Homo sapiens: one gene and its partners. The protein of the gene in region 3 purifies or fractionates together with the protein of the main gene of each other region. This does not show direct contact. Each region holds a gene or a part of one and is shown on either strand. Other genes may lie near its edges. The genes, in order: KANSL2, BCL11A, PHF20L1 and MTA3.

The links.
Region 1: the proteins of PHF20L1 (region 3) and KANSL2 purify together in Homo sapiens (affinity purification with mass spectrometry; 2 studies listed by BioGRID and IntAct, with this or other methods). This does not show direct contact.
Region 2: the proteins of PHF20L1 (region 3) and BCL11A purify together in Homo sapiens (affinity purification with mass spectrometry; 2 studies listed by BioGRID and IntAct, with this or other methods). This does not show direct contact.
Region 4: the proteins of PHF20L1 (region 3) and MTA3 purify together in Homo sapiens (affinity purification with mass spectrometry; 2 studies listed by BioGRID and IntAct, with this or other methods). This does not show direct contact.

What each region holds. Positions count from the first base shown.
Region 1 is NC_000012.12:48,665,209-48,672,248, forward strand, and holds part of KANSL2 (KAT8 regulatory NSL complex subunit 2), read right to left. Parts: intron 6,755-7,040; coding exon 6,591-6,754; intron 4,065-6,590; coding exon 3,898-4,064; intron 2,582-3,897; coding exon 2,485-2,581; intron 2,386-2,484; exon of another isoform or gene 2,249-2,385; intron 1-2,248. UniProt on the Homo sapiens protein: Non-catalytic component of the NSL histone acetyltransferase complex, a multiprotein complex that mediates histone H4 acetylation at 'Lys-5'- and 'Lys-8' (H4K5ac and H4K8ac) at transcription start sites and promotes transcription initiation.
Region 2 is NC_000002.12:60,456,677-60,459,677, forward strand, and holds the end of BCL11A (BCL11 transcription factor A), read right to left. Parts: 3' UTR 518-3,001; downstream 1-517. UniProt on the Homo sapiens protein: Transcription factor. Associated with the BAF SWI/SNF chromatin remodeling complex. Binds to the 5'-TGACCA-3' sequence motif in regulatory regions of target genes, including a distal promoter of the HBG1 hemoglobin subunit gamma-1 gene.
Region 3 is NC_000008.11:132,813,368-132,820,407, reverse strand, and holds part of PHF20L1 (PHD finger protein 20-like protein 1), read right to left. Parts: intron 5,772-7,040; coding exon 5,519-5,771; intron 3,521-5,518; coding exon 3,332-3,520; intron 3,070-3,331; coding exon 2,863-3,069; intron 1-2,862.
Region 4 is NC_000002.12:42,704,609-42,711,648, reverse strand, and holds part of MTA3 (metastasis-associated protein MTA3), read right to left. Parts: intron 3,747-7,040; coding exon 3,595-3,746; intron 2,776-3,594; coding exon 2,553-2,775; coding exon of another isoform or gene 2,530-2,552; exon of another isoform or gene 2,105-2,529; intron 1-2,104. UniProt on the Homo sapiens protein: Acts as a component of the histone deacetylase NuRD complex which participates in the remodeling of chromatin.

The DNA of each region.
Region 1 (7,040 bases), on a different chromosome or scaffold from region 3:
AAATAAAAATCAGCTTCCTGTCAAAAGACTAAGAAGAGGTTCTCCTTCTCCTCTCCCTATTAAAGAAAATAAGTGGCCGGGCGCTGTGGCTCATGCCTGTAATCCCAGCACTTTGGGAGGCCAAGGCAGGCAGATCACAAGGTCAGGAGATCGAGACCATCCTGGCTAACACGGTGAAACCCCATCTCTACTAAAAATACAAAAATTAGCTGGGCACGGTGGCAGGCACCTGCAATCCCAGCTACTTGGGAGGCTGAGGCAGGAGAATCGCTTGTACCCAGGGGAGTGGAGGATGCAGCAAGCTGAGATCACGGTACTGCACTCCAGCCTGGGTGACAGAGTCAGATTCTGTCTCAAAAAAAACAAATAAAGAAAATAAGTTTTAATTTCCAAATATTTGGCATTTCTTGCCAAGCAAATGAAATCCAGCAATCCTATTTAATTAACAAGTGCTTTTACTGCGAAATTTTTCTCAATGCCTATAATAAATAAGCACTTTCACAATTCAATCAACAACTCAAAAAAGTTTGAAGGCCCAATGCCAAATGTAGTCCTTTAACAGAATCAAGAGACATTATGATGGTTCAAAGGCAAATTAATTGAAAAGAAGAAAAAAAGCATCTCATTTTTGGAAATAGCAAACTTCTAATTTGAATGATGTTTAAAGTATGCAAGTTAGAGGCCAGGCACAGTGACTAAGTGTTATCACAAAAGAGTCAAGAGACTGGGCATGGTGGCTCACAACTGTAATCCTAGCACTTTGGGAGGCTGAGGCGGGAGGATCACATGAGCTCAGAAGTTCGAGACCAGCCTGGGAAACATAGTGACACAACCTCTCTACAAAAATTAAATAAAATTAGCTGGACGTGGTAGCACATGCCTGTAGTCCCAGCTACTCTGGTGGCTGAGGTGGGAAGATCGTTTAAGCCCAGCAGATCACGGCAGTAAGCCATCATCATGCCACTGCACTCCAACTTGGGCAACAGAGTAAGACTCTGTCTCAAAAAAATTAAAAAAAGAAAACTTTTTAAAGAGCCAAGTTTCTTTTTTAAGTTTATAAAGGCCAGGTACAGTGGCTGATGACTGTAAGCCCAGCATTTGGGGAGGAAAGGACTGGCAGACTGCTTAAGCCCAGCAGTTTGAGACCAGCCTGGGCAACATATTGAAAATTGACTCTACAAAAAATAAAAAAAAAAAAAATAGGCCAGGTGCAGTGGCTCATGCCTGTAATCCCAACACTTTGGGAGGCCGAGGCAGGCAGATCACTTGAGGTCAGGAATTTGAGACCAACCTGGCCAACATGGTGAAACCCCATCTCTACTAAAAATACAAAAATTAGCCAGGCGTGGTGGCACGTGCCTGTAATCCCAGCTACTCAGGAGGATGACACACAAGAATTGCTTGAACCCAGGAGGTGGAAGTTGCAGTGAGCCGAGATCACACCACTGCACTCCAGCCTGGGCGACACAGCGAGACTCTGCCTCAAAAAATATAATTAATAATAAAATAAAATAAATAATTAGCCAGGCATGGTGGCACACATACATAGTCCCAGCTATTCAGAAGGCTGAGGTAGGAGAATTGCTTGACCCAGGAGTTAAGGCTGCAGTGAGCTATGACTGAGCCACTGCACTCCAGCCTGGATAACAGTGTGAGACCCTGTCTCAAAAAACACAAATAAAAAAATAAAAGCCGGGCACAGTGGCTTACTCCTGTAATCCCAGCATTCTGGGAAGCCAAGGCGGGTGGATCACCTGAGGTCAGGAGCTCGAGACCAGCCTGGCCAACATGGTGAAACCCCATCTCTACTAATAATACAAACATTAGCCAGGTATTGTGGTACGTGCCTATAATCCCAGCTACTCGGAGAATCGCTTGAACTCGGGAGGCGGAGGGTGCAGTGAGGTGGAGGTTGCAGTGAGCCGAGATCACGCCATTGCACTCCAGCCTGGGAGACTAGAGCAAAACTCCATCTCCAAAAAATAAAAAATAAAATAAAATACAGAAGTGAGGGCCCTAACCACACAAAAGGATAATACTAGAAGTTCACAGTGCAAAATCATCCTTTCAACTGGGGTGGAAAACCCACAGTAATTTTTTAAGTTTATAATTAGATTTAACAGCATTAGGATCCTAATAAGCAAGTTAAATCAGAAACCTTGAGACAATTACAAATATTTTATGTATATTTTGGGACCCAAGTATTAAGGCTATAAATAAATATTAGCCCACATCTATGAAAAACGACTCATGTTTCTTTCTAATGAATTGACCATTACATTTCCAAAGTTATGAAATGGCCAACAGACCATAGAAAGACAATTCTTTAGGCTCCTGCTTGAAACCAACAGCTTCAGCAAACTGCTGGCCTTGATTCAGGGCCAAAGGAAAACAAAATCCTTCAATTAAGCAAACTAGCACAGAGATTCCCACTAGTCTTCAAACTAGCAAACCACAGCCTTAACAGGCAGAGTAAAAAGATACGGGTAAGGCAGTGTCTGGTCATTGGAAGAGACTGATTGGAACAACGAACATCATCCACAAAGGCCAAGCACCTCTGACTGGAACGAGTGGTATGGGCCTGAAATGGAAAAAGACAGATAAAATAGACCCACAAAAGAACACACAAACAATTACGATGAAAATAGTTATATAAGAAAAGCACATCCTAAAGGCTAGAAATTCAACATTTAACAAAAATAGATTCACCAATATTATGCAAAAGACAAAAAACTTTAAAACCTAGTGCATAAAGAATGAGTCAACCTCAATCCCAAATACACCTCTCCATATTCTAAAAGTGTGATATAGCCTATTTAACACAAATTTTGTCTTTTACCAACAGAACTCTGAAATTGCAGCCTTAAGTGGAATCTCAACAAATGAAACAAAATTACTCTTACTGAAACAGAGACCAAGGGTCTGAAAAACAAATTTAAGAATGATCACTTAATTCTTCTTCCTATTAACCTTACTTCCTGACATTCAATTGCTCCTATTCTACCTTCCCACCTTTTAAAACAAGATTCCCAAGCAATTTAGGATTAACCTGTGCTTATTTCTGAACTGAAGAATATCTGAACCAAGGACTTAGAAACTTTTCCCAACTACTCAATATGCAGATGAGAATACTGAGGCCCAGAAAATTTAAGCTAACTGTGCAGACACAGAGCTGGTCAGTGGGGACTCACACTAGAATCCATGTCTCCTGACTTCAAGCTAAGTGCTTTCACTATAACCCATGTGCAAAAAGTCAGATTTCAGATCCAAGACTGGACATAGGGAGTTCAAGACCAGCCTGACCAACATGGAGAAACCCCGTCTCTACTAAAAATACAAAATCAGCCAGACATGGTGGCACATGCCTGTAATCCTAGCTACTCAGGAGGCTGAGGGAGGAGAATCACTTGAACCCAGGAGGTGGATGCTGCGGTGAGCCAAGACGGCGCCATTGCACTCCAGCCTGGGCAACAAGATTGAAACTCTGTCTCAAAAAAAGACTGGACATAGTGTTTTGACAATTACTCTAACTTTGTAAATAAAGTGAACATGAACAGGCACGGTGGCTCATGTCTGCAATCCCAACACTTTGGGAGGCCGAGGTGGGTAGATCACGAGGTCAGGCATTGGAGACCAGCCTGGCCAACATAGTGAAACCCCAAAAAATACAAAAACATTAGCTGGGCGCATGGTGGTGGGCACCTGTAATCCCAGCTACTCGGGAGGCTGAGGCAGGAGAATTGCTTGAAACTGGGAGGCAGAGGTTGAGAGATCTCAGTGAGCCGACATCGCACCACTGCACTCCAGCCCGAGTGACAGTGCGAGACTCCGTCTCGAAAAAATAAAAACAATAAATAAAGTGAACGTATATACCTTAAAGGTATACACACAAATTACCTGTTGGGCAGCACCATCTGTGGCCAGCATTCTCCGTTCCTTCAACTGCCTATGCAGTAAGGCTTCCACTCCATAGCGCTGGCGGTATCGTCGCAGACATTTTAATCGCTTTAAGTTCTCTCGTTCTTTGGCCAAAAGTCCCTCTGGGCCAGTCAGGAGACTACTGCCTAGAGTTACAAGAGTCAAGATGTTATTTGCCAAGCAATCCATCAAGGTTACGTCTCCAAGTCAACAAGTAAACAGGAAAATCCTTGGGCATAAGATAGGCAGTTTCAAAAGCAAATGACCCCCAATCCAGGTACCAAGACAGAAATAAATCTAATTATAGTCATGCACTATATAACCACTTTTTAATCAATCATTGACCATACATACTATGGTGGTCCCATAAGATTATAACAAAGCTGGAAAAAAAATTTTTTTTTTTTTTGAGGCACAGTCTCGCTCTGTTGTCCAGGCTGGAGTGCAGTGGCGCAATCTTGGCTCACTGCAAGCTCCGCCCCCCAGGTTCACGCCATTCTCCTGCCTCAGCCTCCTGAGTAGCTGGGACTACAGGTGCCCGCCACCACGCCCGGCTAATTTTTTTTTTGTATTTTTAGTAGAGACAGGGTTTCATTGTGGTCTCGATCTCCTGACCTCATGATCCGCCTGCCTTGGCCTCCCAAAGTGCTGGGATTACAGGCATGAGCCACCGCACCCGGCCAAAGCTGAAAAATTCTTATTGCCTAGTGACATCATAGTTCAACCCACACATTTGTGGTGATGCTGGTGACCAAACCTACTGCACTGCCAGTTATATACAAGTCTAGCACAGGCTGGACACAGTGGCTCACACCTGTAATCCCAGCACTTTTTGGGAGCCCAAGGCGGGCAGATCACCAGATCAGGAGATTGAGAACATCCTGGCCAACATGGTGAAACCCCATCTCTACTAAAAATACAAAAATTAGCTGGGCGTGGTGGCATGCGCCTATAGTCCCAGTTACTCAGGAGGCTGAGGCAGGAGAATCGCTTGAACCCGGGAGGTGGAGGTTGCAGTGAGCCAAGATCACACACTGCACTCCAGCCTGGCGACAGAGTGAGACTATATCACAAAAAAAAAAAAAAAAATCTAGCACCTACAATTATGCACAGTACCTAATACTCGATAATAAACAACTATGTTACTGGTTTATATATTTACTATATTTATCCTTAGAATGTACTCCACTCTATTTATTAAAAAAAAAAAGTTAAATGTAAAACAGCCTCAGGCAGTTCTCTCAGAAAGTATTGCAGAAGACATTGTTATCATGAGATGACAGTTCGCTGCATGAGATTGTCCCCGAAGACCTTCCACTGGGACAAGATGTGGAGGTGAAAGACAGTGACACTAGGCCCATGTAGGCCTAGGCTAATGTACGTGTTTGCATCTTAGTTTTTAACAGAAGTTTAAAAGGATTTTTTTTTAATTAAAACTAGAAAAGCTTATAGGGATATAAAAAAAATTTTTGTACAGCTGTACAGTGTTTGTGTTTTAAGCTAAGTGTTATTACAGAGTCCAGAAGTTTTTCTTAAAAATTTTTTTAAGTTTATAAAGGCCAGGTGCAGTGGCTCATGCCTGTAATCAATCCCAGCACTTTGGGAAGCCACGGTCGGAGGATCACTTGAGCCCAGGAGTTCAAGACTAACCTGGGCAACATAGCGAGACCCTGTCTCTACAAAAATTTAAAAATTAGCTGAGTGTGGTGGTGCATCTGTAGTCCTAGTTACTCAGGAGGCTGAGGCAGGATAGCCTGAGTCCAGGAGTTGAAGGCTGCAGTGAGTGAGGACTACGCTACTGCACTCTGGCCTCAGTGACACAGCAAGATTCTGTCTCTTTAAAAAAAAGCTTATAGGCCAGGCGCAGTGGCTCATGCCTGAAATCCCAGCACTTTGGGAGGCCAAGGTAGGGGGATCACTTGAAGTCAGGAGTTCCGAGAGCAGCCTGGCCAACATGGCAAAACCCCCCCTCTACTAAAAATAAAAAAATTAGCCGGGCATGGTGGAATGTGCCTGTAATCCCAGCTACTTGGGAGGCTGAGGTGGGAGAACTGCTTGAACCTAGGAAGCAGAGGTTGCAGTGAGCTGAGATCATGCCACTGCACTCCAGCCTGGGCAACAGAGTGAGACTCCATGTCCGTCTCAATTAAAAAAAAAAAAAAATGAAAGTAAAAAAGTTACAGTAAGCTAAGGGTTAATTTATTATTGAAGAAACTTTTTTTATAAATTTAGTACAGCTTAAGTGTACAGTACTTATAACGTCTAAAGTAGTAAATAATAATGTGCTAGGCCTTCCCATTGACTCACCACTCACTCACTCGCCCAAAATAACTTCCAGTCCTACAAGCTCCATTCATGCTAAGTGCCCATTTTTAAAATCTTTTATGCCATAATTTAACTGTACCTTTTCTCTGTTTAGATGTGTTTAGGTACACAAATACCACTGTTACAACTGCCCACAGTATTCAGTACAGTAACATGCTTGTACAGGTTTGCAGCCTAGGTATGTTGCAGGCTATACCACCTACGTTAGCGTGAGTCACTCCATGAAGTTTGAATGACAAAAATCACCTAACAAAGTATGTATCCCCATCATTAAGTGACACATGACTGTACTACCAAATTCACATGTTAAACCCACAACAGCTTGTTGGAACTGGCATAAAACTTGCCTAGAGCTTCATGTTCCACTTTGCGATTATGTAAGTATCGGCGCTTCTTCTCCTTGAGCAGATGCTGAAGTCGTTTAAACTGATCAATATACAACGACTGCAAACGAATTAGCTTTTCACGCATAATCAGGGCCACTTCTTCTGCTGTGTAGACACCAGCATGTCTGGAATAAAACAGAATTCAGCAAAGCATAAGAAAACAATAATAATAAAACCCAAGTTTGAAAGAGTAGAGATGTCAGACTAAGTTTGTTATTTAACAAGTGGTGACATAATCACCTTAATGTTTTTGCAAAACATTGTACCATTCAAGTTGTTATTAAATAAAACAAAAGAGAAAATCTCCAAGAAAGAATACTAATCTGTGATTTCCCAAAATGGGGGAAGGAGAAATGTCTTATTTTTCCCAGCTATTTGCATTATGTTGAAAAGAAAGTGAACATGCGGAAC
Region 2 (3,001 bases), on a different chromosome or scaffold from region 3:
TCCAGATTTTTAGATTTCAAAAGTGGGGTTATTTTGTTATGAGAAAAGACTCTTACATGGAAACCAAAGAGCTGATTTTTTTTAAAAAAATCTTTTTTACATTATGTTCTAAGATAAAGCAAGGATGGGAGAATAGAAAAGAACTTTTAGACAACAAGAACAGCAAAAAATTTAAAGGAAATAAAAGTTTAAGATGCTATTACCAGCAAGTTTTTTCACTTATGTTTGAATGGATTTCTGCTAAGAGATGGAGTAAGTTTTTAACATCAGACTGAAAACACCTTCCATTTCTTGAAAACTATTCTAAACTGGAAAGCCTTAAAACTATGTCCAGGGTTTGAGATATGTCTATTTTAATATAGTAAGTACTTTATGTTCCTTTAGGGTATAATACACGCATCAGAATGCCCATAGAAATAATCCTGAAAAAGACTGACTGGCCTTCTCTTAAAACCTGTTATTTTCTTGCAAGTAATTTACAGAGTGTGTCAAATGAGGACACAAGAAGCTTACAATGTGTACTTTAATTTTTTTTATTTTTTCAATAAAGGGACAAAATGGGTGTATGAACAGGTTAATGCAGACAACTGCCAAAAAAACACAGACAGTGGTTTTTCCAATAGAACTTAACAAAGACCAGAAACAAATACAATAAAAAGCCAGGTTGTAATGACCTTTGGTCATCTAAATAAAAAAAAAAATAAAAACAAAGAAAAATAAAAGATCAAATTAAGTGCCTCTGTTTTGAACAGGGCACATAAGCAATAATAAATAGTGACTCCCATAGTAAAAGATAAAATTTCAAGTTACGACAAACAGCTTTCATTACAGGAATAGAAAAGGCCAATAACAAAATATTCTGCATTGCCATTTACAAAAAAGTATTGACTAAAGCGGGCTTTCTCTTTAATATGCTTTGCATATGAAATTCTTTCCAATCTAAATATAAAGCACCATTTAGTTTTTGGCAATGAAAAAAACTGCAAAACATTGGTTTTTTTTTTTTTTTCCTTTTTTTTTCTTTCTTTCTTTTACTGCATATGAAGGTAAGATGCTGGAATGTAGGGTGATAGAAGGAAAGGGACAAAAAGCACACTACATAACAAACCAACGTTATTAGCTTGCAGTACTGCATACAGTATGGCAGCAGGAAAAAGGAACAAAAAAGGATATGTACAACCCCTATGACAGCCATCCATGTGACATTCTAGCAGGCTCCCCCAAACCGCCATTATATGGCTTCTCATCTGTAATGTCACACTTTTTTGTTTCTCTCTTTTTTTTTTTTTTGAAGCATACAAATAATTTGCACTATATTATCCTGCCAAATTAAAAAAATATACTGTGGCAGCCTGTCTTTTTTTTTTCCACTACCAAAAAAGGTACATTGATACCTTTTAAGAGAACAAGCAACAGTTAAAAATACAAGCTTCAATATAAATACTATAGTGCCTAACACTAGATGAACATTTAATTCAAATACCATTCTAGAAATACAGAAAAAAGACCATAAATGTATTTTAGCATAGGAATCAACATGAGTGTGCATTTTCCTATATTTAAGTACTATATAATCTTAAACCTTTCCCCAATGTATGTTTTTTTTTTTTACAACCTGAAGAGCGGTGTGTATCCAAGGCATAGAATTTCCACTACCATTTTTAAATGGATAACAAGTCTTGTAACACCACCAAGACAATGGAACCCTAAAATGCAGTTCCCCCCTAAACATAATGAAGTGTTTTTTAAAAAAAATTTTTCTTAACATTTATATTTAAAAAAGTTTTGTACAAAAAAATCCTTGCACTGTAGAAGCGAAAGCAATCATTCATTTCTATGTTAAGTGTATTCTGTTTCCATTCACAGCGCTTGCAATGTTGCGTCCAAGTAAGTAAGCTCAATAGTCAAGTAAATGGCTGGCAAAGTTTTTTTTTTTTTAGTTTTTAAAAAATGCTCCTCAATGAGATTGTGTTCAATTTTTTTTCAGCATTCTTGCAACTTTTCCCTTAAGTATAGACCTGTAAACTGGGAAAATTGTACAGTGCACTTAATTGTCCTATCTGAGCAGGTTTATTTTATACTCAACCTCTGTATCTCTGATTAGAGAAAAGATACAGATATCACAGGCAGAGTCAAGTGCTATTTGAACACCAACTGGGGCAGATGCTAGCTTAATAAAAAAGAAAAAATTAAAAAAATAAAAATAAAAACAATGAATCCTCTTCCATGTTAACACAAATAGCACACAGTGTATGGAAAAGAAATGAAGTACAACTTTTAGGGAGCACAGACATATATACTGCTACTCTTAAAATTCTTTCTCTTCTTTTTTTAAGAATGTCACATTTAAATGCAAGTCTTAAGAATTCATAGTTAATCATCATTGTATCAATATTAGCTTATATACCTGTTCTAGTTTTAAATGGCAAATAGTACCACGTTGTGCTAATAAATCATATTATTTTCTTCTGTTCCCCTCTGTCAAACCTTATTGTCAGCCTCTTCCTTTCAATATGGTATACAAGGTCTTAAAGTTTATCATTTGATTGTCCACTTGACAACCAAGTAGATCTGGATCTATTTCTTTTGGTGCCAGTATTTTTAAAAAGACATTATTAAAGCAAATATCTTCATAAAATGAACTCCTTACTAGTGTATTTAATTGCGTTCCAGGGCTTTTGCACATTACACATTCAATTTAATCATTGTTTAAAAAAAATAAAACTTTGGGCAAAACAGCCCATTTCTTTTAAGCTCTCACCAGGAGCAAAGTAGCTTTTATACTGGTATAATCAGTTTTGTTTATAAAATTAAACTAAAGGAAAAATGATGATTAACTAGGACATAATGGGTCATCTTTTTAGGTAGCCATTGTTGTGAGAAATACAATATAGAATTATATGCTAGTTCCTAAGGTTTATTACCTCACCCAATGCTGAATTAAGCTACAAGTTTATAACAAGTAGAAAGAACCATCGATGTGGTTTTAATAGATCCAAGG
Region 3 (7,040 bases):
TTCCCACCTAAAGAGAATTGTGTTGACAAGGGGCAATAGATAACTGTTGGCCCAAGGTGCCTGTGAGAACCTGAACCAAGAGTATTTTTCAAAAGACCCCTTTTCAAAAAACTTGATTTACTCTATCCTCCCAGATACTAACAGAATTAAGATTTTCTGAGGCTGTATCCTTATCTAAAATTGGCTGGCTCTGTGACAAAGCATCCTGATAGTAAAATAAAAACAAAGGCATCAATTTTTACAAAGATACCAATTACTTGTTTGGTAATGTAGGCAGCAATAGCATTCTTAACAGTGGCTAGACATGTGGGCATCCACCCCAGCAGAAGAACATACGAGAGATTATTGCAAGTTCATTATCTCTATTGGAAAACAATTAAGAAAAGTTGTATATAATAATTGGACTATCTGCAAATCTCATCAATCCTTCAGCATCAAATGCTAAACTCAACAGTGTGAATTTATCTTGCTCCCCCAAAAGTAAAAACCTAACCATGTTGAACAATTTCACAGTTAGCAACTAACACCCTCATCATTCTAAACTCCCCAAGAGTTTCAATTTGACAAAAATAACTCAGAAAATGTCTCTGACGAACTGTAAAGAATGTTTTCAATTATCAGTTTTAAAATTCAACAGTAAGAAAATTTACTTTTATAATATGGACACCAACAAAACATACATGTGTGTATGAGTATGTGCATATATGTACATATGTATCAGAGAAATAAAAACATAAAAACCTGGCACTTTGGCTCTAGATGTAAAAGGACTTGGGGAACAGACAGAAGCATAACAAATACTGCAAAATAGTCAAGAGAGGGTGAATAACAAAAAGGTTAAGGAGAAAAGCATAGAGACCACCGAGAATTTCAATGCACGTGGGACAGGCACACAAGGTTGTAATCAAAAGGTGTTCAGTCAGAACATGACCTAAATTGCACTACTTTCCTCAAAAACTAAAAATTAAGAGGTCACAGAAACAAATGAGAATTTCACCTCCCTCTATTCAAATACTGTGTTCAACCCTCTAATAAATCTTCAGTAATTAACAATTAAAACTATGCATTTCCTTGCTATAATCAATTAAAGTTGACAGCTACTGTACTATTAAGCTCATCATATCCAGATAATCCTTACTCTTCCACAAATTCAAATTATAGCTAAACTCCTCTCTACCTTTTACTTTCCCAGAAAACGATCTTACTTATTTTACTTTTCCAATAGTTACTGCTAATATTTAAAAAGGGAAAGAATATTCGTGTGCCTTCCTCTAAGGTAGTCAGCCACATTGCCACAAATATGCTAGAAATTCTGAAAAGAGGAAGTTAATAATCTGGTTAGAAGCAAAATCATCGAAGTCAAGGACTTCCATGCACAATCACTACATTGATATTTTATGATATATAATCTGTTAATGTAAGACTCTTAGTTATTACACAGTTACTTATATTGGCCTATATTTCAATATTGTTACAAATATTAGAATACTTTTAAAGAAAAATGTAAATATTTTCACATGTACATTTGAAAATAATTTTCCCAATGTATATACAACCTTATAACTTTAACATATTTTTCATATATTCAGTACGGTAACAAATTCCAGATCGTTAAAGAACCGAATAAGACCTTTATCAAAAAAGTATCTCAATGGGTCAATGACAATTTGGAAATCTTGTGGAAAAGTGGAAAAGAAAAATTAATTATCTTAAGGAAAGACCAAGAGTCAAAAGACAATAGATCTGATTTGAGAAACTACAGGAAATGTTTCAAAATCTACAAATATTCACATTTGGGTATTGTTTTATTTTTTTAAACATGATAAAGAATTATCATGTACAAAGTAACTTCAACCTTTATATAAAGATAAAAATTAATAAAAATAAGTATATGTCTCTTATGTTACTTCAATCATTTTATTTCAATACATGCCATCACCAGAAAAGAATAAGTTTCATTTTATGCTTCATCCAAAAAATGGATAAAATGGTTTCAGGGAAGACGCCTGTAAACACAATGATCACCAACACCCTTGGTAACGAATCAACAAACTGCCTTATGTTTTTCTCCAACTCACAACAAACTAAATTCAGACTTCCTTCAAACATCTAGTTCCAACAGTAATTTACCAGAAGTGCATTTGTAACTAGTATTGGCCTTTTTATTTTATGTGTATTCTAGATCAGGTTATAATTCTTAAAAACTTCTAAATAAAACAATGCACCCACATAAGGGAAACATGAATAGATATTATTAGATTTAAAATATCAGCTTGGTAAAATACACATCCAAATGCTTTCGAACTACAATAAATATCACAAAATCATGCAAAAAATGTGTTATTAAGGATGGCTGATTTTACATATTGCACTCCTCAAATAACTTTACAGCAAATTTAATTCAATTTGGAGGATTCTGCCCCAAAATATGGAATTATATTTAAGATACAGGCATATAGCTCAGTGTTTCTTAAATATTAAATTCTATCAAAATCCTTAAACCAAAGTACTGATCCCATTAAGTATTTCCCAGCTTCAAAAGTAAGAATTCCTGTAACTATACTTGGCTCTAATAATTTATATTTAGTAGAAATAAGGATATATAAAAAAGAAGCAGGGAGAAGGAAATAGATCAAGTGACAAGGTTAAGCAGCATGTATGTCCAGGGAATATGATTGTAAAATGATCACACAAAAGACCTTTAAAACGGAGATGAAACTCTCCTATAAATGTTAAAGTATTTATGAAAAGGAATTATATAGGAATCAAAATAATGTAGTTAAACCTCAAAATGTTTATACCTAATAACTGCAAGCCTAGCTACTTATCTACTTATAGGAGCCTTTATTTTTTTTCTTTTACCTGCTGCTGCTGGAGCTCCTCTTCCATCAGCTATTGCTTTGGAAGAAGGATTTGGAAGCATCTGTGTATCCTCTTTTTCTGCCCTGGGACATTCATTACGGTAAGAGGAATCTGAGGCTACCGGTGCTGTAACTTCTGAACCACGACTTAAGTCAAGAGGGAGACAGGGTCCCAGCTTCTCAAGTGGCAAATGTGCAACATCAGGCACTACACAAAATAAAGAGTGTAATGTAATATTAACACAGATAAAATGGCTCAGTTACTATCACTGTGAATTAAAGTGTTACATAATTTAAACAGTGCCTGGCACAAAGAAGGCACTCAATAAATATTTGTAGAATAAGTGAAGTGCTTATAACTCCAGAAGATATAAGAGCAGAAATATCTTAATATTTTAATAATCTTTATCTCTTAGTTTTTTCTTTATCTTCTTTTATGTTTGGTTCTATAGGAAATCAATATACATTACCCTCTGGTACTGAAGATTCTTGCTGATTTTGAGAACTGATGGAGAATACTTTCCCATCAGTGGCTGGAGAGGGAGAAGAAACCTTTTCTACAGAATCATCAGGCATGGGTAAGGTGGCTAAACGCTGAGATCTTCTTCTCCGCTCACTATGCTTGAAAGGTCTAGGGGGATTCACAGGCTGTGGAGGACCTAGAAAAAGATCTTCAATGTTCACGAAGCAGATACATACCAGGAGCATCTTACAATATTTAAGGAGATAAATGGGAAAAAATGATTTATATTCTTCCCTCTGATGTTGTTATAAGATATCCACAAGGAATGGCATGTTCCAAAGGTAATCAAAGGCAAAAATTGTGCCCTCATTCAAAATGAGTCAATCAAAAATTGTAAAATCTACACTCTACTAGAACTAAAAGAAAATAAAATGGAACATTAATTTCAAGTAGCTCCCCCAAGTGACAGACTACAGTTAATTTCTCTAATTGCAGATCGTTGTGTAAATTGCCATTTTTCCTTCGGGAAAATAGTCTCTTTACAGCAAAAGATAAGGAAAAATATATATATATGTATTCCTTTTGCTACATTGCAAATCTAGAAACTCTAAGGGAAAAAAAGGCAGGGACAAAGATGATACAACATTATAGAGTTAGTGATTTACTTTACACTAATGTAAATAATTTTATCCCATCATCATCCCCCCCAAATGGAGTTTTATAAACATGTCTGGGCCTGATTCATTAAAAAAAAAAAATGAACAAAAACAACTTTGTATACTTATTGTGAGCAAATAATGAGGATATTTAAGATTATGACATTGTGTACTTGTGTTTTTTAACAACTTGGTAAGTAATTTAGGCATCTTCTAGCAATATAATATAAATATTTGGAAATGTCTCTCACACTTTTAGATATCTTCTTTCTACATGGCATACAAACACATTTGACTAGAATAGGCAAGATTATATATGCCAATATATTCATGTTAATTTAGAAAGAGGAAATAAGAACAGTCTAAAGACATTGATGTTTGGGTATTTAAGAGTAATTTTACAATCAAAACGAAAAAGACATGCTGATAACTTAAAAATATGAAAGAATAAAATTTAATTGCTATAATATTGTGGTTATAATACCAAGATATAATTTCCAAAATAAAATGTTTATTAATGTCATATGACATTCCAGTGACTACTACTGACACTATTTCATGATAAATGCCATAATGAAATGAAGCTTATTAGGAAAACAATTGAATTATGTTCCCATTCTTTCCACCTATTAAAAAGAAAAAGCAAAACCTGATCAAAATGAAAAAATGATTCAGTAGAAAATATGGCAACTGAAGGAAAATAGGTTAATAAGTTTGATAAAAGTCTTCTGAATGCCAACATCTTTGATTATTCTGGAAGACACAATATGGAATAAGGAAACATGTCATATTCACTCAACTGATCATGTATTTCATTTTTTGCATAAAGAGCAAAAAAAACCATCATTTACCAACTGACTTTTCAAATAACTGTTATTCATGTCTCCAACTTAGGATACTAAACTAATATGAGAAACTCAGGGTCAACACAAATCTTGTATTATTTATATATACAGATATATAGGGAGATAGATAGATATACCCATGTGAAAGGTGTTTTCGAAAAAGACTGCGTTAACTCTTGAAAAATTAGAAGTACTGAAACAGTAAAATCTTTAAAAATACAATCATGGGGGCATTTTTTTTTCATTAAAAAGATTAAACTGAAGTCTAGACTATAAATATTATAATAAGAATGAATAAAATGTATTGCAGAGGAAAGTTATAGACAAGTGGGGACAAAAAATCTACAGGAATAGTCTTAAGTAAAAATAGCTATCCTGGGTCTTTTTATAACTTTTTTTTTTTGTAATGAATCAGGCCTCTCAGTATGCTTGGATTATGAGTTGAGGAGAGTCAAACTACAGTGGAATCTGTGTTATTAAATGGAAAGGATTCTCAACCAGCAGTAGTCTCTAAGCAATAAATCAGTAAGAAATGTCTATGGTTTTTGCCCCTGAAATAGTTTCAAGCCTTCCCTATCATATCCACTTGAGTTTTTAAAAAGCAACTTCATAAAAATACAATATAACTACAATCAAACTGTTTTTAATGTATCTTATAGGATAAATAACTATTTTTTAAAAATCTGTGCTCACTAGTTTTATTTATCACTGAAGAAGAAAGCTGAGATACAAGCGTCAAATCCTCGACTTGTATTAATTCTGGGGAAAGTGGTGATTTAGGGGGTTTTATACACCCAGAAGAATCTCCAGATTCATGTTTGCATTTCTTGCTGCGAGCCTTCCCTGAAGACAAAGTTGAGGATAACAGTGCAGGTTTCTGAGTGTTGGCAGAACTGCTAATGTCAGCTTCATTTTTTTTCTGACTTTGAGGTTTAGGTGAAATCGCCTGAATAAATAATAAAAAATTGATATTTTTATTTTGGCTTCTTCATTTTTGTTCTTGTATTCTATTTTGACTGTTAAGCAACTTTAGTATCCAGAAACATTGTTAAGCAACATATAACATTTCTATTACAAATGAAAAACCAAAAAGAACCCCACAAATTATTAACTAAAAGTTGAATAGGCTGTCTTTAAAGGGATGCTGTCAACTTTCAGTCTAAATTCATTTTTTAAAATATATTATTCATAATATTTTCGGAACATAAAATGTTATCTTACTGGACAAATATTTTCAGTATTAAATAGAAATATACCCCTTTAGGAACCATAATTGCCAATGACAATAATTCGAAAAATAAACAGCATTTTCATGTTTTAAAGGATTAGAGGAATACATTTAAGCTTTTGATTTTAGATGTTTTCTTATAAAATCTTTTCTTTTAAGTTGAATGTAAAGGTCTAAGTAGACAGATTCCCTTTAAAGAAAGATCTGAACAGGAAAAACAATGACCAAATTAACAAAACATTATCTTTAACTCATTTTAGTGCTGAAAGCTAGAGTTTCATAAGCACAATGCATCATGAAATCAGAGCCACCAGCAATATAGAGTTAAAAGACTAAAAAACAATACAAAACAAGCAACAACAACAAAAAAAAAACCAAAGAGATAAAGTGTAAGTTAAAAACATTGGATTTAAAAACAAAATACGTCGCATTCTTAGATGAGAGTTTTTACCTTCTTCCTGCCAACTGATACTTTTAAAAAAAAATTAGAACTTTGTCAGTTCTTTCATAAAAGATCATTTTTATTCATTTGGCTGTAAAATTTCCTACATATGTTAAAATATGTGTGAATGTGTCCATTTTTCAAAACAAGAGAAAATAACTACATTGGATGAATTTGCAATCTATGGTTCTGCAATACTTCTATCTCTTTCTGATATACTTATCTGAGAGCAAAATATATAATATGCATTTTTTGAAAATCTATTCTACCATAGGCCTTTATAAAGAATCAGACTGCTAGCACTATAAACAACATGCTTGTCCCCAAGAAATCTTTTTACTTCCATATCTTGTGGAGAATAACTATCAGGTCTGCTGTCTGCAGTTCTCTGGAATATGAACGATCATTTTCTGGGGACTAAATAAATAAATAATTCTGTTCCCACTGAGATACAAGTCAAATTTTGCTGGGGAAGAAAAGTGCATATTTGGTATTAAGTAGGGCACCTTCAATGCTCTATAGACAGCATGTTGGACATACCACAT
Region 4 (7,040 bases), on a different chromosome or scaffold from region 3:
AACAGAAGAGATGATAGCATAATCAATTAGATGTTAGGAAAAGTTCATTGCTTGTCTGAAAAATAAAAAAGAGTAGACGGCTGCTGAAACACTGTCATTTTAAATCTCAAGGTAAAATTATTTAAGAATCTGATTATGTACAACTCAATGACCAGTGAAGCTAAATACAAAACAAAATAATACATGCTCTCTGAATTTCATCCAGATAGACGACTGCTCTTTTATGATTACTATAATCTATATGCTTATAGAAATAAAATACAGGTAACTTAATTATGATCCCTTTTAGCAGCATGGCCCGTCAATTGAGAAAAAAATTAGAACGAGATAAAAGAAAAATATACTTCATTGAAGAATAATCAAAACAAAGATAATGTGCAAATTAACTGAAAATTAACACACAAGCCCTGGGGAAACAGAGTTTCCTCAGCAGCCAACTGAGTTGCTGATGGTTTCTCTTCTAGTCCTAGGACAAAGATGATACTGGATCCCCACCAATCTTAATGGAAAAGTCTCATTCATTTTCATTCTTAAATGTTTTACTTTTTAATTTTTATTTATTTATTTATTTTTTAATGCGGAGTCTGTGTTGCCCAGGCTGGAGTGCGGTGGCATGATCTCAGCTCACTGCAACCTCTGCCTCCCAGGTTCAAGTGATTCTCTTGCCTCAGCCTTCCAAGCAGCTGGGATTACAGGCGTGTGCCACCATGCCTGGCTAATTTTTGAATTTTTAGTAGAGATGAGGCTTCACCATGTTGGCCAGGCTAGTCTCTAACTCCTGACCTCAGGTGATCTGCCCACTTCGGCCTCCCAAAGTGCTAGGATTACAGGCGTAAGCCACCGTGACTGGTCTTCACCATTTTATTTAAAAAATTACATGAAAATGTGTTTTAAATGAGCTGAACAATTTAGACTATAAATATTTCTAATTCCCAAAATGGGAAAGTGGTAACGTAAGTCCATGAGGTCTCAAATGCTAGCACAAAACCTAAATATAAGCCTAAACTCTCAAATATACATGAATCTAATATAGTAATCCCCCTTCTGTGGGACTCTGACATTGCTACCACTTTCTTTTTTTTTTTTTTTTTTTTTTTTTGAGATGAAGTTTCGCTCATTGCCCAGGCTGGAGCGCAATGGCGCAATCTCAGCTCACTGCAACCTCTGCCTCCCGGTTTAAAGCAATTCTCCTGCCTTGGCCTCCTGAGTAGCTGGGATTACAGGCGCCTGCCACCACGCCTGGCTAATTTTTGTATATTTAGTAGAGACAGTTTCACCATGTTGACCAGGCTGGTCTCGAACTCCTGACCTCAGGTGATCCACCCACCTCGGCCTCCCAAAGTACTGGGATTACAAGCATGAGCCACCGCGCCCAGCCCTCAACTCCCTTTACAAAGCATTTTTCTTCTTATAGAGCTGCTACTTAAGTTTTAAAGCCTTTCAACTATTCTGCTAAAAATTATCTTTAGGAACAAAAAATGTTTTTTTCAGTCATCATTCCTTTTATTGATATCCTCTTTAAATCAAAGGGGAACATTTCATAGTAAGAGATTTCTTAGAATGGCTTTAGGATTTCCTATCTGTTAGGCCAGACAGCAAGTTTTGTCACCCCTTAAGGAACAAAAGCTGCACGGCTCTAACATGCTAGCCTGGAATGTGACTCCAGAGCTAACATATTAATTATACACATATTGTCAGAGACATGGTAATGACAAAACGATCCACAATTCATGGACACATATGATCTCTGTGCTAACAAAAATAAAAATAAAAAAGATAAGCAAGACCAAATGTGTTGAAAATAAGAGTAGTAAGTCATGTAAATGTTATGTGGTGATATATATGATACATGATCATGAAATGGAAACCAAACTGGACAAACAGGCTGCTCAACCATATGTTTAGATGCTAGCTTATGAAAATGCAATGTGTAATTTCAGAAAACTCACCCAAAAATGAGTTTAAAATTTACTTGTAATTTGCTAGACCTTCTAATAAATATAGTATTTGTTATGAATCAAGGGTGAATTTCCATAATGTTGTATGACAATTGTAAAAGGTTCATGAGAAAAACGAGAGGTTTACAAAGACATACAGTCTCTAATTAGTGTAAATTGGCAAATTTTATTTAAACCTAATGAATCCATGTAAGACTGGACTGTACTGTCTCGATTATGGAGTCTCATTATAACAGCATCCTTAGGGGTTACATTGTGGCACTACCTAAAAGGTAAAAGTGCTTCAATAAGGGCTCTGCAGGCAATTCCATCACAAAACCCCATGGAATAGGATCACCTCCCACCAATCTTTTGCTAAGCACTACTCTCTGGTAAAGAGTACAGAAGTTTCAATGTTTTGATTTTTTTTTTCCAGGTTGGCATGATACAAATGGCAGCACACAAAAACAATGTTAAAAAATAAACCAAATAAAAGGCTGTACACAAGAACTTATGTTTATTGCAAACAAACAAACAAAAAAAAAAGGAAAGAGAGGAAAAGAGAAAATGGTCAGAAGCACAACATATAAGGTTAAGAATTTAAAAGCATCTTACATTCTGCCCTAATGGCAGCATAATTAATAGCAACAAACGGCCGTCTTGCTGCCTGCCGCAGCCGGAGGGTATTTTTGCAGACCTGACGAGCAAATTTTGTGAAATATGTAGTATGAAGGAAGAAAGCTTGGCGGGTCTTCACTGCAGACTTTGGACTCCCAGTGTTTCGGACTGGCATTCCCTGCATGGCCTGGCGGGACACGTGACTTCTAACACGAGGGTCCTGCAAAATCAGAAAACAACAAACACTCAAGGAAGTGAACTTGCCCAAACACGTTACTGTTTGCATCATGCTCAAAAGAAAAGTGCAACTTTTAAATCTTTCATGAAGCATCTATAACGTCACTTGGTGCACTACCTCTAAAAGAGAGAATTAAAGTGTGCACTTTTGGGAAAGAGGTGGGGAGTAGAGAAGGGAACTGTGGAGAATACTGTACTGCTATACAGGAATCCAAAATCACATTCACAGTAAGTGGTATGAAACTGCCAAGGGGGTTAACTACACTTTTTTTTAAATTAAGGAGTCCTGAAAGCCCGTCAGCACTGAAAAAGGGTAGTCGCCCACTGGTAAACACAGGCGTTTGGCATCTTCAGCCTATGAGGATTTTACCAAAATCACATTTAAACTGTTGTTCACCTCAAGATTAAGTCCATACTTCTTGTCCCTCCAAAACAGCCACGGGGAGAAAAAATGCTTAATTTGCATTTATGACTTTATGTAGTAAGACACGCCTTCAACAGAATGTAAAGGTTACGAACTGTTTTCAAAAGCAATTAAACATTTAATTTGTAAGCTCTCTACTTATGCTAACATCTCCCACACTCATTGTTTTTTTGTCTGAGACCATTATTCTGAATACCTGATAAAATTTAATTTCTCTCTGCTTCTCTCCACACCTACCCTGAATATTGTAGTGCTACGTTTAGCTATAAAGGTAGCTTTCTTCATTTTTTAATTATCCTATACTGTACTTCTGTTTCCAAGGAATAATCAACCCATTTAAAAACATGCCATTTTTCAACACTAAAAAGACTACTGTACCTCTGTAGTTGGGCTAGGAGATAACTTCTCTTCTTCTGACTGGGTGGGCATTTTCAAGCCTCCATATTTTTTCCAATAAAGCCAACAAATTGCACATAATCTACACTGCATATTAGGTGGGCCCCAAGAATACCACTGGTGAGACTGTGTAGCTAAAGCAGAAGAAAAATAAGAAAAAACGAAAAATGCTATTTAATTTGTAACATCAACACAAAATAATCAAACATTTTAAAAATACTTGTCATGCTTAGTTTACAATGTTATTGTTCCCAGCTTACAAGCCAAACATAATAGTATATTTGTTTTTTTAATACTCAGAATTCATTAAACCAACTTATTTCCATTATTATATAAAGTGCTTGTGGCCCTGTTAAAGCTATTCAGTGAAGCATCCTGTATTATGCATTGTGCTGCTGAGGGAGTTTTTGTTTTGTTGATTAAAAATACTCTATTGTGTATGTTTCTGGAAATAGGTTCTCAAAAAGATGGTAGTATTTAAAAAATCTGGGGCCGGACATGGTGGCTCACGCCTGTAATCCCAGCACTTTGGGAGGTTGAGGCAGGCGGACCATGAGGTCAGGAGATCAAGACCATCCTGGCTAACACGGTGAAACCCCGTCTCTACTGAAAACACACAAAAAAAATTAGCCAGGCATGGTGGCACGCACCTGTAGTCCTAGCTACTCGGTAGGCTGAGGCAGTAGAATTGCTTGAATGTGGGAGGCAGAGGTTACAGTGAGCTGAGATCACGCCACTGCACTCCAGCCTGGGCGACAGAGTGAGGCTCCATCTCAAAAGAAAAAAAAAAAAAATCTAAATCCACGTTTCCAAACCCAGGGTTCAGACACCACTCCAAGGATTATTTAAGGTACTCAGGGAGGTCTCATTGATAAAGTCAGGAATCTAATAAAAACAGGTATCTGTCAGCCAGGTGTGGTGGTGAACCCCTGTAGTCCCAGCGACTACAGAGACTGAGGCAGCAGGACTGCTTGAGCCTGGGAGGTTGAGGCCACTGTGATTGCACCACTGCATTCCAGCCTGGGTTACAGAGGGAAGCGGGGAGGAGGAGGGGGCTGGGGAGGGGAAGAGGGAGGGAGTAGGGGAGGAGAGAAGAAACAAACAGGTATCTGTTTTGCACTCCTTTATTTTAATCAATAAGTAAAATCCTTATTTTAAAATCTCCATTTACAGACAGAATCCCTTTCAAGACTCTAAATCCATATGAAGTGAGCATGGGCAGCTGACATCACAGCATGCTTGAGGCCTAAAACTCAGATGATTTAACAGCTAGCTGAACACTGTAAGCTTGTGTTAGTTTTTGTTTTGTAGTTTAAATTACTGACATGTGACATTTAAAATACATGTGTGATAGATCTGAAGTTTAAGAGAAAACATTGAGGTTGAGACATAAGTTAATTGGGTGCATAAAAAATTGTAATTCTGTAAGTTTGCCTTAAAATATTATTTCTCTGACCTGTAAGTTACCTTCAAATGTTCAAACAGCACATGAAGATATCAACTAACACTTCACAAACCAATGTGAAAAAGAGAAAATACAGAGACCATTATATTCATGTTTATCGGGAATAACACTGTACACCCATCATGTATTATTTTTGGAGGATTATTATTTTAGGCTTTTATTTGTGTAAATATTTTAGGCCTATTTTAGGCTTTCATTTATACAAATAACTATTTTATACAAATGAAAGCCTAAAAGCCTTTCCTCCTATAATTTAGAACTAATAAGTCATTTTTTAAATTTTTTATTTTATTATTATTATACCTTAAGTTTTAGGGTACATGTGCACAATGTGCAGGTTAGTTACATATGTATACATGTGCCATGCTGGGGTGCTGCACCCATTAACTCGTCATTTAGCATTAGGTATATCTCCTAAAGCTATCCCTCCCTGCTCCCCCCACCCCACAGCAGTCCCCAGATGTGATGTTCCCCTTCAAAATCTTAAACATTAAGCTATGAATCTATTTTGAATTCTAAATATAAAATTTCACTTAAAACATACATTTTACGTAAACTAATCATGCAAATCATTTTAATAATTGTCAATAAATGCCTTTCTCCTTAAATAACTCAAATTCAATTGGAAAGTAGGTATCATTTAATAAATAGAAAACATCAAGTTCTATCTCTCTGTAAGGATAAATCTTATATTAAGATAACATTTTATCATGGAGATTAGTAATACATGAGTCTAAAGTAAATATTATAAAATAAAAATAGCTTATTCATCATGCACACATAAAAATAACAGAATAATCATTTAAGGGGATATACGTGAGTGTGAAAGGGGTTTGCAAGTTAATTTTTTTTTTGGGGGCGGGGGGGAGACGATGTTTCACTCTGTCACCCAGGTTGGAGTGCAATGGTGCAATCTCAGCTCACTGCAACCTCTGCCTCCTGGGTTCAAGCTATTCTCCTGCCTCAGCCTCCTGAGTAGCTGGGATTACAGGTGCATGCCACCATGCCTGGCTAATTTTTGGTATTTTTAGTAGAGACGGGGTTTCACCATGTTGGCCAGGCTGGTCTCGAACTCCTGACCTCAGGTGATTCACCCGCCTCAGCCTCCCAAAGTGCTGGGATTACAGGCATGAGCCACAGCACCCTGCCTGCAAGTTAAAATCAAGACAGGTTAAGCCACTACCACTTGTCTGCAGGATTCTTTTCATTTTCATTTGAATATACATGAACTACAAAATCCAAGAATTCCCAATTCAAGGTATTTATGATGCTATCCATGTAAAAGCCTGACCTAAAAAATCTTAATTTTCCACAAATTGTTTCCCTTTGTGCTCCCATGCTGCAAAAAAATGGTTAAACACATCCCCATGTACCATTTCTACAAATTCAGCAACTTGGCTCACACCTTCCTTGGGATCAATCGACGTAATCGTACTCACAGCCGTCCCTCATTCCTATATCCTTCCTGAAGGCAGTAGGCTACATGTACTCTCAAAGAGCTACTAAGAACCCAAAATGGGGCACCAAGTAGGTTTTCAATAAACATTCGTTTCCTTCCCTCTCCCATCCCAGGCTACCTTAACTGGAAGGAAACATAGATGATAATATCACCAATGCCCCATTAAGATATTGTATCCTTGCTTGAGATTTAAAATAAACACACAAAGTCTATCAACTACCTAACGGTTCACTTCACCGACCCCATTTAACACCCTGGGCAAATAAAATACTGCCACCATAGATAAATACAGTGGGATCCTGAGGCCAAAAGCAAGTATCATAGAAGAGCATTTCCCAAACTGGTGCACTGAGGGAACATGGTCTGAGGATTATATACAGCAGCTTATCCACACAGAGGCCTTTCCTACAGAATTACTTGGAGCTTTAATTTGTCAAAGTATACTGAGAAACTCCAAAGGGGAATTTGGTATGCATCATGGGAACACAGTTTCTGCAAAGCTAA